Regions from separate parts of the Homo sapiens genome. Here region 2 is linked to region 1. Evidence: fine-mapped expression QTL. Tissue or cell type: skeletal muscle. Region 1 holds a variant in brackets; the other region holds the start of a gene. All regions are shown on one strand. Distances are from middle to middle.

Region 1 (8,179 bases):
GTGGACAGCGTGGCCTGGGAGGCAGACAGATGGTGGGGGACAGTGGGTGGGTAGAACCTGTGGGAAGGCCTTGAGAATGGTGGAAAGTCTCCAGGTGGTGGTTTCAACTGACAGGTGGGAGCTGCCCTGGAAGGGTGCCGAGGGCCTTCTCCAAGCCCCAGGGCTCACCGTCCGTGGTGGCTTCCTTCTCCCCACTCTGTGCCTCTCCTGTTTGTACAACTTCTTATTCTGCTCCTCCCCATCACCCCTCCTCCTTCCCCTGCCATCCACCTCTCCTTTGAGGAGTTCCCCAAAAAACCAAACTTGGAAGCTTTCAGGAAATTATCTATACAGGTTTCTGATGGCACTTCCTCCTTCCAGCAGTGAGGTCACACCTCCCTGTGAGTCAGTCAACCCTGCTGATAAACTTCTTGTTGACGAGGATAGGGGCTTGGTGCCTGGAAATCGGCGGGTTTTAATAAGAATCAGATTATGCAAGGCCGAAAAGCCTGCCTTGCTCTGTTATTTGGTCAGCGAGTCCCCAGCCTTGAGTTTTTATCTCGGCAGGAAGACAAAACAGACTCACATGAAGCAGCCAGAAGATCAAGTGCAAAACAGTGAATCAGCAAGGGCAAATGATATGGTTGCAGTTGAATACAAAAGCCCGGAGGCGGCTCGGGTTCAAGGCCTATCAGAGGCAGATGTTCAGAGGATCTTGAGACCAGGAAGGGACCTCAAAGCGTCAGAGGCTGATGAGCAGTTAGGCAGCCAACAGGGCTCAAGCGGCGCAGGGACATGGCTTGTATGGGCGGGCACACAAGTAAACACACAGGCTCTCTCCAGCACACAGGACCAAGGCATCATGCTGCCAGAGGGGCTGGTGTTTGCCACTTTGTCAGAGTAGGGCTGTGGATTTTGTGCCTTGCTTGGGAAGCTCTCAGGGATGGCAGGATGGCAGGCTCCTAAGTGACAGCAGGGGGGAAGCTTGAGGCACAGTGGGTGGTCCTTACTCTCCATCCCCTGCCTGAGAACCAGGAAGCCTCATTCAGAGATTAGCCCCTTTACTGCAGGTGGTAGCCCAGGTGCAGCCAACCTGCTTCAGGGTCTCAGGGCCTGCTGTGGACCCCCATGGTCCTGGGAGAGACTCCTTAGAAACAGCAGAATCACGAACATGGTGAAACCCATCTCTACTAAAAAACAGAAAAATTAGCCAGGTGTGGTGGTGGGCTCCTATAATCCCACCTACTTGGGAGGCTGAAGCAGGAGAATCCCTTGAACCCGGGAGGCGGAGGTTGCCGTGAGCCACCGCACTTTGGCCTGGGTGACAGAGCAAGACTCCCTCTCAGAAAAAAAAATTAAAAAAATAGAAACAGCCGGGGAGTGGAGGGTGTGGTCAGAAAGCCTCAGGGACCTGCTTCAGCCTTCAGGGAGTTCAGATGAGGCACAATGAAGCCACTGGCCTCCACTCAGCCATTCTTCCCTGCAGCTCTTTTTTTTTTTTTTTTTTTTGAGACAATCTCGCTCCATCACCCAGGCTGGAGTGCAGTGGCACAATCTCGACTCACTGCAACCTCTGCCTCCTGGGTTCAAGTGATTCTCCTGCCTCAGCCTCCTGAGTAGCTGGGACTACAGGGGTGCGCCCCCATGCCCAGCTAATTTTTGTATTTTTAGTAGAGACGGGGTTTCACCATGTTGGCCAGGCTGGTCTCCAACTCCTGGCCTCAGGTGATCCACCCATCTCGGCCTCCCAAAGTGCTGGGATTCCAGGCGTGAGCCACCGCGCCCAGCCCCTGCAATACGTCAACAGTCCCTAGATTCAGGCAACATGGAGTTGCAGCCAAGGAACTTTGAGGTAGTGACCAATGCAGGGAGGTCTGACAGAGAATCAGCAGGATCCATTTCATGGCCACCACACATCTGACTGACTCCTTCTTGGGCTAAGCAAATACTTTTGTGGGCAGTGACACTGGCAGCTGCTGGGGTCTTGGCAGGAGGTTGGATGGAGGTCTTCTCCCAGAGCAGTGTCCAGCTTGCAGGAATGCTCCCTGCGTCTCAGTTGTGCCCATTCCAGGTCCAGGGGAAAGAAGTGACCCGCTTCCCCTCTGAAAGCAGATGTGGTCCCAACAAGCAAACACGGTCTCCATCTCCAGCACCACAACTGCCACGGAGCAGAGGGAGGCCTCCCTGTGGAGCAGCCCTTCCCTGTGGCCTCAGCCCATGCCCTCCTGCCCAGCCCCCAGTGGTGCTGCTGGAGGGTCTGACTCCACGGGCTCCCGCTGACCTTGCCGTTCCTTCCCCTCATCTCGTAGCGCCTGGCCCCTGGAGGAAGGTGGGTAGGAATTTGACACCGGATAAATAAATGTTTGAGGGGCAAGAGAGATGGGACAGAGTTCACCCAACAGGACAGACGAGGCTGGCAGTCACAGCAGAGGGCAGGCACTCAGGTCTGGAGAGGCAGGGCATGGAGACAGGGACCCACACTCTGGAAGGTTTCTCGACTCCCCCGAGGGGCTGGCCAGTTCTGTCTTCCTTCTGCCCACTCTGTGGGGAGGAGCCTCTCTGGGATAGCGTCCCCTCACTCCTCTCCCAGCCTCGTTTATCTTCACCACAGTACAGAAGGGGGCCCCTCTCCAGGCCTCACCACTTAACTTTTCTTGTACATGGAAAGACAAGCCTCTGCTAGAGGCCTGGCAAGGGTTCCCCTTCAGAGCCAGCCAGTGCTCTGCTGCTGTAATCTCCAGGGACCCTGCCGGCCACGGCCCCCATGCAGCTCCCTCCCTCAATCCAACCCTCTTTGGGCTTATCACCCTCAAGGTCTAGAGTGCACCAGGGTTGGCTGCTCTGCCAAGTCCTGTTGAGACTCCAAAAGCATAGTCTGTCTTTATTAGGGTGACCTTCATATCAGACTCCCAGGTAACTCAAGATGATAGCTTTGCAATATAGTGCCTCCTTTTATTCCTATTTGTGAGTTTCTCCGCTTTCCTCACTAGACTGAGAGGGTCTTGAGGGTAGGAGCTTTGTTTTAGTTATCTCTCTATCCCTGGCCCCTAAGACACTACCTGGCTCAGCAAACCAACCTTTGAGACAAAGCAACATTATAACACTACATTCATATAGCAGATCATTTCATGACCCACATTCTCCTTCCTTTTTACGAAGAAATGGGCTCAGGATGTCTTGTCCAGCATTATGGAGTGAACGTCAGCTCCAGGAAGCAGAGACTTCTGGCCCTTTGTTCACCATTTCCCCAGAACCTAGGGTGGTGACTCACCTATAAGTGCTCAAAAAACATGTGGCGAATGGAGGACCAGAGCTAGGCTCTGAATGAGGCCTCCTGGATCTCACGCAGGGGATGGAGAGTAAGGACCAGCCCCTCTACCTCATGCTTTCTTCCTGCTATCTCGTAAGAGCCCAACATCCTTCTGTCCTGAGCAAGCCACAAGCTGCAGCCCTGCCTTGACAAAATGGCAAATGCCAGCCCCTCTGGCAGCATGACACCTTGGTCCTGTGTGCTGCAGAGTGCCTCATGTGTTGAACTGTGTGCCCTCAGAAGCATGCCATGCCCCCGCTCTGCTGGAGCAGTGGCAGATGTCACCCTTCCTAGATAAATCCTGGACGGCTCCACGACTGGCTTTTAGCCCTCAACACTTGGCCTACATTCTTTCTGGCTTGGTTGGAGAAGGAAAGAAGCAGTTGGAGGCATGACTGCTATTGTTCCTTGGCTTCTCTCCATTTGTCTCAAACTTTCCTAATAGAGCAAAATTGCTGAGTGGTCTCTATTTACCAACATGAAACAGAAAAATACCATCTCAGGCTCCATATTCCATGTCCCTGTTGAATACAGATCCCCGAACTGAGAAATAAGAAACAACTACATACGAAGTAATACTTGAAAATGTTTCTCTTGTAATACTTCCATATCCAAAGCATTTGAATATATTTATTTTATTGATGTAGGTCTGCCAACTCTTCCTTCTCAGGAAGGACTGTTTTTATTCCAAACATGTATATATAAGGTTAAAATGTATTTTTTAAAATAAGATAATTATTGATAGTTGTTTTTAAAATAGCCTTGCTTAGCAAAATAAATGTTGGCAACCCTAAGTTTGTTCTATTATAATATTATTGAAATTACATTGAATTCTGAAAT[C/G]CATGTCAACTTGAAGTTACCAAGTTTTAACCACTGTTAGAAAATAAGCAGGAATGAAATCTGTTTCAAGCGTTTCAATTTCAATACAATTTAATAAACAGGCTTTGAGCATCTACCCCCACCCCCTTTTGGTTTTTTTGCAAGCACCTGGAGGCAGAGCTCATGTGGAGCTTACAATTTAGTAGGAACACAGGCATTAATTACAAAGTAATTACAATGCTGATGAGTGTGTTGAAGTGGAGGGGGCTATGGGGCTTCAGCCCCAAAAAGCTAAACCTGCAGGCTAAAACTTTAAAAAAATATATTTAATTGGCAAATAAAAATAGTATACATTTATGGTGTACAACATGTTTTGTTATATGTATACACTGTGGAATCACTAAATCGGGCTAATTAACATATGCATTATGTCACATATTTATCATTTTGTAATGGTGAGAACATTTAAAATCTCTGTGAGCAATTTTCAAGTATACAGTACATTGCTTTTTTTGTTTTTTTGAAACAGAGTCTCACTGTGTCACCCAGGCTGGAGGGCAGTGGCGCAGTCTCGACTCACTGCAACCTCCACCTCCTGGGTTCAAGCGATTCAGCCTCCCAAGTAGCTGAGATTACAGGCGCACACCACCACACCTGGCTAATTTTGTAGTTTTATAGTAGAGACGGGGTTTCACCATGTTGGACAAGCTGGTCTAGAACTCCTGACCTCAAGTGATCTGTCTGCCTCAGCTTCCCAAAGTGCTGGGATTACAGGCGTAGGCCACCACCCCCCGCCCAGTACATTGTTATTAACTATTGTCACCATGTGGCACAATAGATCTCTGGAACTTCTTCCTCCCATCCAACTGAAAGTTTGCATTCTCTGACCATCTCCCCATTCCAACAGGCAACCACCATTCTACTCTCTGCTTCTGTGAGTTCCACTTTGTTAGGTTCTACACACGAGATCACGCAGCGTTTGTCTTCTTGTGCTCTAGGCTGGATCTTGGTTATCAGCCCAATGACAAGCAGAGTAAAGGCCCGGAAGTTAGGGAGACCAGGGCTCAGTGTGGCTGGCACTGAGAGCTGAGCTTCTAGCGTGGGCCCACACATACATTTAAGACTGTAGCCAATTTTCCTTTCAGAACCACGATGAAGAAATGAAAGCCAAGGCCAAGAAAATCTTTAATGTTCTGTTCCTCCCCTGCTTGGGAAGTAGAGTGGTCTGAAGGCTCCAACACAGAATCTGTGCCATAACCAAGTCTTATCTGGGGCAAGTTACATAACTGCTCATGAAATAGGAGTGATAACAATGCTTCCCCCAGACGGTTTTTCTGAGGGTTAAATAAGAATTTTGTGGGACATAGTAATCACTCAGTAAATGTTCTGGTCTGAGAGTGACCAAAAGGATGGAACTAGAGATATTTGGGCAAGATATTTGCTATGGCCTGAACGTCTGTGTTCCCCTAAAATTCATATGTGGAAATCCTAACACCCAAGGCAATCGTGGGGCCTTTGGGAGGTGATTAGGCCATGAGGGTGGGGGGCCCCCATTAATGGGATTAGTGCCTCATAAAAGAGATCCCAGAGTCACCCCTAGGCCCTTCCTCTCACTGTGAGGTTACAGTGAGAAGATGACCTTGTATGAACCAGGAAGCAGGCTGCTGGCATCTTCATCTTAGACTTTCTAGCCTACAGAACTGTGAGAGATTTCTGTAGTTTATAAGCCATCCAGTCTACATTTTGTATAACAGACCAAACAAATATTAAAAATAACTTCGTGATTAGAAGTGCTACAAAATGCTAGACTACGCATGGAACCAAGAGTTTCTATTTATTTACTTTTTGAGACAGTCTCACTCTGTTGCCAGGCTGGAGTGCAGTGGCTCAATCTCGGCTCACTGCAACCTCCGCCTCCCGGGTTCAAGTGATTCTCCTGCCTCAGCCTCCTGAGTAGCTGGGATTACAGGCACCCACTACCACGCCCAGTTAATTTTTGTGTTTTTAGTAGAGATGGGGTTTCACCATGTTGGCCAGGCTGGTCTCGAAATTCCGACTTCTGGTGATCCACCCACCTCGGCCTCCCAAAGTGCTGAGATTACGGGCATGAGCCAACACTCCTGGCCAACCAAGAGGTTTCAAGGAAAAAAGCCGTAAACTTTTGGTGGTTAACTGACTGTGGTCCTAAACAGAGGCAGGGGCTGTGTGCAATGACTTCTCAGGATCTCTTTCAGCCTACAGGTTCCTGGAATGCATTTCAGCTAACACTACAAGAGTGATGTCCCTTGCTACTGAGAACCCTGGGAACAGCTCAGCTCCATGGTCCAGCCATATAAATCTGATAAAAATAGGAGCTGAAATACCATCCTGGAGTTGCTATTTTTAAAATCATCTGAGATGCTGGATGGGGTATATTTCTTCCTCAAACACATCTTGCTGTTTCCTCCTCTTGGTGGGCAGGATGCTAACGTGGCACATGATACAGGAGCTGTTCCACGCTGCTGCTCACACCCACTCCTGCCAGAGAGGGGCCGCAGGGCCAGGGCTTCCCAGATCTAGATGCACCTGCTCCTCCCTCTGCTCCTGAGGCCCCTCTGGTTGCCCCAGCACAGAGGTGTCCTGCCACTTCCACCAAGCAGAAACACAGGAGAGTTTGGGAGGCAAAGGAAATGGGAATGGAGGCAGCACTGATGGCTTGGAAGGGGACTAAGACCTGTTGTTCCTCTGGTTGCCTTGGTCCCACTTTGGCACAGTTAACATCCAAAAGAAACAGTCCCCATGGGCCAAAGCCCTGCTTATCCCATCCTACTGCCTCTTGCTGAGCCGCTCATCATGTGTTGTAGTTGCACCAAAGGGGGGCCTGGGGCCAAAAAAGCACATGGAGAGGAGAGAGGAGAGAAGAGGAGAAGGAAAGATGGAAAGACAAGAAAAGAGAGAGAGAGAGGAAGGAAGGAAAGAAGGAAGGAAGAAAAAAAAAGAAAGAAAAAGAAAGAAGAGGAGAAGGAAAGATGGAAAGACAAGAAAAGAGAGAGAAAGGAAGGAAGGAAAGAAGGAAGAAAGGAAAGAAAAGAGAAGAGGAGAAGGAAAGATGGAAAGACAAGAAAAGAGAGAGAGAAAGGAACGAAGGAAAGAAGGAAGGAAGAAAGGAAAGAAAGAAAAAGAGAAGAGAAGGAAAGATGGAAAGACAAGAAGAGAGAGAGAGAAAGCAAGGAAGGAAAGAAGGAAGAAAAAGAAAGAAAAAGAGAAGAGGAGAAGGAAAGATGGAAAGACAAGAAAAGAGAGAGAAAGGAAGGAAGGAAAGAAGGAAGGAAGAAAGGAAAGAAAAAGAAAGAAGAGGAGAAAGAAAGATGGAAAGACAAGAAAAAGAGAGAGAAAGGAAGGAAGGAAAGAAGGAAGGAAGAAAGGAAAGAAAGAAAAAGAAAGAAGAGGAGAAGGAAAGATGGAAAGACAAGAAGAGAGAGAAAGGAAGGAAGGAAAGAAGGAAGGAAGAAAAGAAAGAAAGAAAAAGAGAGAAGAGAAGAGGAGAAAGGCACCAGAATTGCTTCCCTCCTGCCCCAAAGATGACATGGCTTCTAGGCAGTGAGCTAAGCTTGTGGCCATGCTGTTAAGAAACTGGAGGGAAAAGATCATCATGAGTAAGCACATTGTGGCCTAACCTGAGGGGAGCAGAATTACGGTTAGCTTCTGGGCACCTAGTAACCAGGCTTGGGATAAGCTGGGGGAGAGGCCTGAATACAGCTTATAGGTTAGAAAAGGCACGCCACCTGCATAGTAACAGCACACACTTATATATAGCAGGTTATGCTTTCAGACCAAATTCGCATCCATTGCCTGATTTAATGCCAACAATAGCCCTTTGAATAAGCAGTTATTTCCTTTCCCCTCCCCCCACCCCAGTAAGAAAACTAAAGCTATTTAGTGGCAGAGACAAGAGTTGGAACTCAGGTCTCCAGGAACAAATGCTGGTTCTTAAGTTCCATTTTCTGGTAGAGTGACATTTACGTGATTCACGGCAAGAACTGCAAACTGTGCTTAGATCTAGTTCATCAAATGGCCAAGTTTAGAGGCTGG
Region 2 (8,179 bases), 46 kb before region 1:
CCCTTACCACTCTATAGATTCAAACTCCCACATCATTTTTGGTTCCTGCAAATTTTACTTTTTTGAGAGCTCAGCAACGTAACTAAAAGAATGTTTTAAATTTTACATCCAGAATGTTCGGGTATTTTGTAGCTGACTTGTTTTCAGTTTAGTCTGTTATAATCCCTGAAATGGAACTGGGAAGTATCCAATCCTTCTTTAGACTAAAAAAGAAAAGATTTGGGAGGTTTTTTTTTTTTTTTTTTTTTGAGACAGAGTCTCGCTCTGTCACTCAGGCTGGAGCACAGTGGTGCAATCTTGGCTCATTACAACCTCCGCCTCCAGGTTCAAGCCATTCTCCTGCCTCAGCCTCCCGAGTAGCTGGAATTATAGGTGCCTGCTGCCACACTCAGCTAATTTTTGTATTTTTAATAGAGATGGGGTTTCGCCATGTTAGCCAGGCTAGTCTCAAACTCCTGACCTCAAGTGATCCACCCGCCTTGGCCTCCCAAAGTGCTGGGATTACAGGCGTGAGCCACCGCACCTTGCGTGGGAGAAATTTTAAGATTTCTGAAAAACAATTGAACAGGGCTTTATAATAAATGAGTAAGCTAATACAGCATTGTCTAGTAGAACTTCCTTTGATAATGAAAATGTTCTCCATCTGTGCTCATACGATAGCCACAAGTGGATATCAAGCACTTGCAAAGTGGCTAGTGTAACTGAGGAAATGAATTTTAACTACTACCATAAAGATTCCTTTCACACTGAGGTCTGGTATTTAATAGAACCTCTGGTAGCTGAGGCTTCCTATGAGCTCATCCTTTCCTTGGCATTCTTTTTTTTTAAGAGACAAAGCCTCGCTCTCTTGCCCAGGCTGGAGGGCAGTGGTGTGATTATAGCTCACTGCAGCCTCAAACTTCTGGGCTCAAGTGGTCCTCCCACCTCAGCCTCCTAAGTAGCTGGGACTACAGGTATGAGCCACCACGTGGGGCATGAGCCAGGCCTTTTTGAAGAGTAGAATTCTGGTTTTATATTTTAATCAAAATTATACCCATATTGATTAATTTTGCCGCTAATGAATACATTTCTCTACTATTTCATTTCAAATGTTTCTATTTTGCTCATTATATTTTAGCTACACAGGTCATTCCTTTTGAGACAGAGTCTTGCTCTGTCACCCAGGTTGAAGTGCAGTGGCGCGACCTTGGCTCACTGCAACCTGCACCTCCTGAGTTCAAGTGATTCTCCTGCCTCAGCCTCCCAGGTAGCTGGGATTACAGGCGCACACCACCACACCCAGCTAATTTTTGTATTTTTAGTACAGACTATGTTTCACCATGTTGGCCAGGCTGGTCTCGAGCTCCTGATCTGAAGTGATCCGCCCACCTCAGCCTCCCAAAGTGCTGGGATTACAGGTGTAAGCCACCATGCCCCACGGTCATTCCTATTTTTTAAAAATGTCAAGCACATTACTGCTCTAGGGCCTTTGACAGCTAATATTTACTGTGCCTGGGCTCTTCATATGGCTGATATGGCTGGTTCCTTCTCATCATTCAAGTCTCAGCTCAAATGTCACCTTTTGAGAGGCTGTCCATGATCATCTTATCTAAAGAGCTTGGCCGAGCATGGTGGCTCATGCCTGTAATCCCAACACTTTGGGAGATGGGCAGGTCACCTGAGGTCAGGAGTTTGAGACCAGCCTGGCCAACATGGCAAAACCCCATCTCTACTAAAAATACAAAAATTGGCCAGGTGTGCTAGTGTACGCCTGTAATCCCAGCTACTTAGAAGGCTGAGGCAGAAGAGTCGCTTGAACCTGGGAGGTGAAGGTTGCAGTGAGCCAAGATTGCACCACTGTACTCCAGCCTGGGTGACAGAGTGAGACTCTGTCTCAAAGAAAGAAAAAAAAGGGCGGGGGGGGGGGGCTCCTATCCCCAGGCTCTTTCACACTGTCCAGTTTTGTCCTATTAACAGTACTTGGCCGGGCACGGTGGCTCACGCCTGTAATCCCAGCACTTTGGGAGGCTGAGGCGGGCAGATCACGAGGTCAGGAAATTGAGACCATCCTGGCTAACACGGTGAAACCCCGTCTCTACTAAAAATACAAAAAATTAGCCAGGCGTGGTGGTAGGCCCCTGTAGTCCCAGCTACTTGGGAGGCTGAGGCAGGAGAATGGCGTGAACCTGGGAGGTGGAGCTTGCAGTGAGCCGAGATCGCACCACTGCACTCCAGCCTGGGCGACAGAGGGAGACTCCGTCTCAAAAAAAAACAAAAAACAAAAAACAAAAAACAGTTCTTAATCATTATCTTGTTTACCTCATGTACCCCATTTGAATATACATTTTATGAAAGAAGAGGCCTCGTTGTCTTGCTTAGAACTAATAGCCGCTGGCACATGGAAAATGGAGACCTGGAAAGGTTAAGAGACTTTTCCAAAGTTGCACAGCTAGTCAGTGTTGGGGCCCGACTTCATGGCTCTCAATTATGGGCTCTTTTTGTTAAAACATAGCTACTTTGGCAGGGTGCGGTGGCTCACGCCTGTAATGCCAGCTCTTTGGGAGGCCCAGGCGGGCGGATCACGAGGTCAGGAGTTCGAGACCAGCCTGGCCAACATGGTGAAACCCTGACTCTACTAAAAATACAAAAAATTAGCCGGGAGTGGTAGCAGCCGCCTGTAATACCAGCTACTCAGGAAGTTGAGGCAGGAGAATCGCTTGAACCTGGAGGCAGAGGTTGCAGTGAGCCGAGATCGCGCCATTGCACTCCAGCCTGGGGGACAGATCCTAAGTCTCTCCTAATAATGCTTTCTGCATCACACACACACACACACACACACACAAAGTAGTCCTTTTTTTTTTTTTTTTTTTTTGAGATGGAGTCTCGCTCTGTCACCCAGGCTGGAGTGCAGTGGCGCGATCTCAGCTAACTGCAAGCTCCGCCTCCCGGGTTCACGCCATTCTCCTGCCTCAGCCTCCCAAGTAGCTGGGACTACAGGCGCCCGCCACCACGCCTGGCTAATTTTTTTGTATCTTTAGTAGAGACGGAGTTTCACCACGTTAGCCAGGATGGTCTCGATCTCCTGACCTCGTGATCCGCCCACCTCGGCCTCCCAAAGTGCTGGGATTACAGGCATGAGCCACCGCGCCTGGCCTAAAGTAGTCTTTTATCCAACTCCTAATCTATATTTCTGGTAGAAGTAATCCAAAAATCAAACTAACACATGGTACACTTTGTTATTGACCAAAAACTGACTGTAAATTGCATCTTGTTGCTAACGTTGAGAATGGCAAAAACTGTCCCACACCCATGAGATCTGTCTGAAAACCTAAACTCAAATCACTGGCAAAATAAATGTGTGGCTGACTGAAGCGATGTAAGTACCAACTCTTTTTTTTTTTCTTTGAGACGTAGTCTCGCTCTGTCGCCAGGGTGGAGTGCAGTGGTGCGATCTCGGCTCACTACAATACTCCGCCCGCGTTCAAGCGATTTTCCTGCCTCAGCCTCCCGAGTAGCTGGGACTACAGGCGCGGGCCACCACGCCCGGGTAATTTTTGTATTTTTAGTAGAGACGGGGTTTCACCATGTTGGCCAGGATGGTCTCGGTATCTTAACCTCGTGATCCGTCCACCTCGACCTCTCGAAGTGCTGGAATTACAGGCGTGAGCCACCGCGCCTGTCCGTAAGTACCAACTCTTCACAAAATTTAGATCTGTTAAATAACACCAGTGAAAAACGGGCTAACCAGAAACAATGGTCACCAAAGAAACCCTCAACAGCAGAAGTTACAAGTAATAATTTTATATGGCAAAAAAAAAAAAAAAAAAAAAAAAAAAGAGAAACGAAACCCTGGGAGACGAATCATACTGCAAATCATATCCCTGGGTAGCAGGGCAGAAATACAGGTAAACAAAATAGAGAGGAGGGGGATGCCTCTAGCCCGGAAATAAGTGGGTGGTGGAGATGGTTCTTCTGGCCATATTCGTTTACCTTTTTTGTCAGCAGAAAAGTACTGAGTCTACAAAGTAAAAAACTGACCACGATGAAAATTTCTGCAAAGTAATTAAAATGGGAGAAAAATGGAAATGGCTTAAATACTCGGTATAAAAAATCGACCAAGGAATCAAATGGGCTCACGGATTTGCGTCAGAAACGTTGCTTCCCCGATAATTGGTCAACGTCGGTGTAACTATGATTAAAATGTCAGTATTCAAACAAGGGCTCCAACACTACCGTGGCCCAAGGGCGTCTTCGGCTCCCACCCCGGGGCGTGGGCCTGGGGGTCCCTCTTCACTGCGCAGCCACCTCTAGCCCGCCGCTTTCGGGACTCTCAGCCTTCTTTTCCCTTCCCTGAGGGCCGGCCGGCACCACAACGGGGCCAAAGGCAGTAACTCGGTTGAAAGGCGCGCCCTGGGACAGGTCAGCGGGCTCCGCCATGCGCGGCACGCATCCCGCAGGAGCGGGTGCCAGAGCAGGGTAGGCCGGGAGTTAGCAGCCCAGCCAGGCCGCTGGACTCGGGCTAGGGGCGGGGCCAGCGCAGGGGGCGCAGGCGCACACCGCCTCCGCGGCAGCATGGCGGACGCAGCTCCTCAACTAGGCAAGAGGAAGCGCGAATTGGACGTGGAGGAGGCCCACGCCGCCAGCACAGAGGAAAAGGAGGCAGGAGTTGGAAATGGTACCTGTGCTCCTGTCCGCTTACCGTTCTCCGGCTTCAGACTGCAGAAGGTGCTGAGGGAGTCTGCGCGGGACAAAATCATTTTCCTACACGGGAAGGTACCAGGAGGCAACCCTGAGGTGGGATGCGGGAAGCAGTGAACCAATCATCGCCTCGGAGGCAGATTTTTTTTTTTCGGATCTCGGCTGGAAAATACCAATCATTATCACTCCGGGGAGGCGGGAGTGCGCCACTAGAATGCATAGAGGGGCGGTGAAAGGCGGCAAGATTGCCTTTGAAATTAAGGCAATGAACACATCTAGCTCTAATTTTTCTAATGTCTCCACTAGAAATATCTACTGGGAGAGTGCATTGCAGATTAAAGATCACATGTTACATTCCCCAAGCCATTCATCATCCATTTATGTATACAGGGACTAGGAACCCAGTCAATGTTAGATGTCTCGCTCATCCCTGTCCGTGGAAACGACATGAGACTGTAGGAGATGTGATCTCTGCCTTACGCGACTTCAGCCGTAACAGGAGAACAATATATTATAATTGTTAATTCAGTTCTACGCACGCACTTTCATGCATGCCAGACACTAAACTAGGTACTGGGGATGTGGAGACGAAAGTTACCATCCCTGATCTTCAGGACTACGGAATATTTCTGGCGAGACAGATACACACAGCTTGCTCCAATACCAACGTGCTCAGCAATCTGGCAGGGGCTGAGGAGAGATGGAGACCATTCCAGGAACTAGTGAGGAGGCCTAGCCAGAGCAGATATGGGGGTTCCCCAGAAACTAGTGAGGAGGCCTAGCCAGGGCAGATAAGGGGGTTCCCTAGAACTACTAGCAGGAACTCTCACCTTTGGGAGGATCAGGGAACCTTGGCCTAGGCTTCCATGCCTCTGTGTGTATCTGGTTTTTAAATTTTTATTTATTTATTTATTTATTTTTGAGACGGAGTCTCTCCTCTCTGTCACCCAGGCTAGAGTGCAGTGATGTGATCTCGGCTCACTGCAACCTCTGCCTCCCGAGTTCAAGCTATTCTACCTGCCTCAGCCTGCCCAATAGCTGGGATTACAGGCCCCCGCCACCATGCCCAGCTAATTTTTGTATTTTTAGTAGAGATGGGGGTTTCACCATGTTGGCCAGGCTGGTCTCGAACTCCTGACCTCAGGTGATCCGCCTGCCTCTGCCTCCCAAAGTGCTGGGATTACAGGCGTGAGCCACCGCACCCGCCTTTTTTTTTTTTTTTTTTTTTTTTGAGATGGAGTTTCACTCTTCTTGTCCAGGCTGGAGTGCAATGGCACTATCTTGGCTCACTGCAACCTCCACTTTCTGGATTCAAGTGATTCTCCTGCCTCAGCCTCCCAAGTAGCTGGGATTACAGGCATCTGCCACCATGCCCAGCTAATTTTCGTATTTTTAGTAGAGACAGGGTTTCACCATGTTGGCCAGGCTGGTCTTGAACTCCTGACCTCAGGTGATCCACCCACCTCTGCCTCCCAAAGTGCTGGGATTATAGGCATGAGCGACTGCGCTGGGCCTTGTTTTTTGTTGTTTTTTGTTTGTTTGTTTGTTTGTTTTTGTTTCTTGTTTTCTGTTTTTTTGTATGCGATTCTGTCTGGTTCTCTCAGCCCAGCTGTCTTCAGTGTGCAGCACCTGTTGAAGGTGTTAGTCATGAGAGCCTTCGAGCTAGGAGTCACTTGGGAGACCTAGGTTCTGGTTTCTGTTTCAATGCTGACTGTTCATGTGACCTTGGGCAAGTCACTCAAGGTCTGTTTTTCATCTTCTGAAATGGGGAGAACTTGACAGAGGTCTTGTAAGCCTAAAATGGAAGACAACTGAGAAGCCTTGTATTCTGGGGAAGAAAGGTGTGAGAACTGCCACAAGGATTTGGGTGGAGATGCCTTCTCTGGCTGGGCATGGTGGCTCACACCTGTAATCCCAGCACTTTGGGAGGCTGAGGCAGGCATATCATTTGAGATCGGGAGTTCAAGACCAGCCTGGCCAACATGGTGAAACCCCATCTCTACTAAAAATACAAAAATTAGCCAGATGTGGTGGCATGCGCCTGTAATCCCAGCTACTCAGGAGGCTGTGGCGGGAGAATTGTTTGAGCCCAGGAGGTGGAGGTTGCAGTGAGCCAAGATCGCGCCATTGCACTCCAATCCGGGCAACAGAGCAACACTCCATCTCAAAAAAAAAAAGATGCCTTCTCTGAGAAAAGAAATGTGAAATGTGAGTGCCATTGGCTAGACTTCCCCAGAGGGAAGACTTCAGGGAAGGAAATCCCAAGTATTGGGAATTCAAAGGCCCTGGGAGCTTCTGTCTTGCTCTCCAGAGTCTCATCGTGGTTCTGCCCTTGAGCCCACTGATGATGCCTCTGCCCACAGGTGAATGAGGCCTCTGGGGATGGGGATGGAGAGGATGCCGTTGTGATCCTGGAGAAGACGCCATTTCAGGTGGAACAGGTGGCTCAGCTCCTGACGGGCAGCCCTGAGCTCCAGTTGCAGTTCTCCAATGATATCTACAGCACCTATCACTTGTTCCCTCCAAGACAACTGAATGGTGAGCAAGAGGTGGCCAGGGTGGCTGTATGGAGGGAGAATGGGATGGTGGGAAATTAGGTGGTATGGTGACCAGACTCTCTATACCCGATTTGCATATTCTAGTACAATAGGGAGATTACTTCCCTAGGGGACATTTGGCCATCGGTGAAGACATTTTTGATTGTCAGAATCGGGGGTGGTGGTGGGGTGTTGCTTCTGGCATCTAGTGGGTGGAGATCAAGAATGCTGCTAAACACCTTACAATGTACAGGACAGGCTCCCACAGCAAAGTAATGTCAATAGTGCTGAAACTCAGAAACCTGGCCAGGCATGGTGGCCCACACCTGTAATCCCAGCACTTTGGGAGGCCACGGCGGGCAGATCACCTGAGGTCAGGAGTTCAAGACCAGACTCTCGGCCAACATGGTGAAACCTCATCTCTACTAAAAATACAAAATTTAGCTGGGCATGGTGGCGTTCACCTGTAATCCTGGCTACTTGGGAGGCTGAGGTGGGAGACTCGCTTGAACCCAGGAGGCAGAGGTTACAATGAGCTGAGATTGTGCCACTGTACTCCAGCCTGGGTGATGGAACAAAACCCTATCTCAAAAAAAAAAAAAAAAAAGAGAAACCTTGTTGTAGTGTAGTATGTTTTAGGGAGAGAGTGTGATTCATGGGATAGAATAATATATATATATTTTTTGAGATGGAGTCTTGCTCTGTTGCCCAGGCTAGAGTGCAGTGGCGCGATCTCGGCTCGCTGCAACCTCCGCCTCACAGGTTCAAGCAATTCTCCTGCCTCAGCCTCCCGAGCAGCTGGGATTACAGGCGCCCACCACCACGCCTGGCTAATTTTTGTATTTTTAGTAGAGTCAGGGTTTCCATCATGGCCAGGCTGGTCTTGAACTCCTGACCTCGTGATCCACCCGTCTTGGCCTCCCAAAGTGCTGGGATTACAGGTGTGAGCCACCGTGCCCAGCCAG

The links. PIP is the estimated chance that this variant, and not a neighbour inherited with it, causes the effect.
Region 2: DCPS starts here. The variant in region 1 is fine-mapped to the expression of DCPS in skeletal muscle (GTEx, PIP above 0.99). The same link has a PIP of 0.9 or more in anterior cingulate cortex, caudate, cerebellar hemisphere, cerebral cortex and prefrontal cortex.

Annotation. Positions count from the first base shown.
Region 1 is chr11:126,345,756-126,353,934 of GRCh38, forward strand. DCPS (decapping enzyme, scavenger) reads left to right here. Exons shown (of 6, transcript NM_014026.6): 6 at 1-4,250. All of the region lies in intron 1 of GSEC (G-quadruplex forming sequence containing lncRNA), which reads right to left. Among named protein-coding and RNA genes, the nearest start is that of GSEC, 5.7 kb to the right of the region's middle. The variant C/G (reference allele first, on the strand shown) is at 4,130.
Region 2 is chr11:126,299,530-126,307,708 of GRCh38, forward strand. It overlaps DCPS (decapping enzyme, scavenger), which reads left to right and starts at 4,531. Exons shown (of 6, transcript NM_014026.6): 1 at 4,531-4,752; 2 at 7,041-7,215. The coding sequence starts at 4,552. It overlaps TIRAP-AS1 (TIRAP antisense RNA 1), which reads right to left and starts at 4,793. Exons shown (of 2, transcript NR_187388.1): 1 at 4,659-4,793. RefSeq lists a silencer at 4,489-4,618 and an enhancer at 6,277-6,566.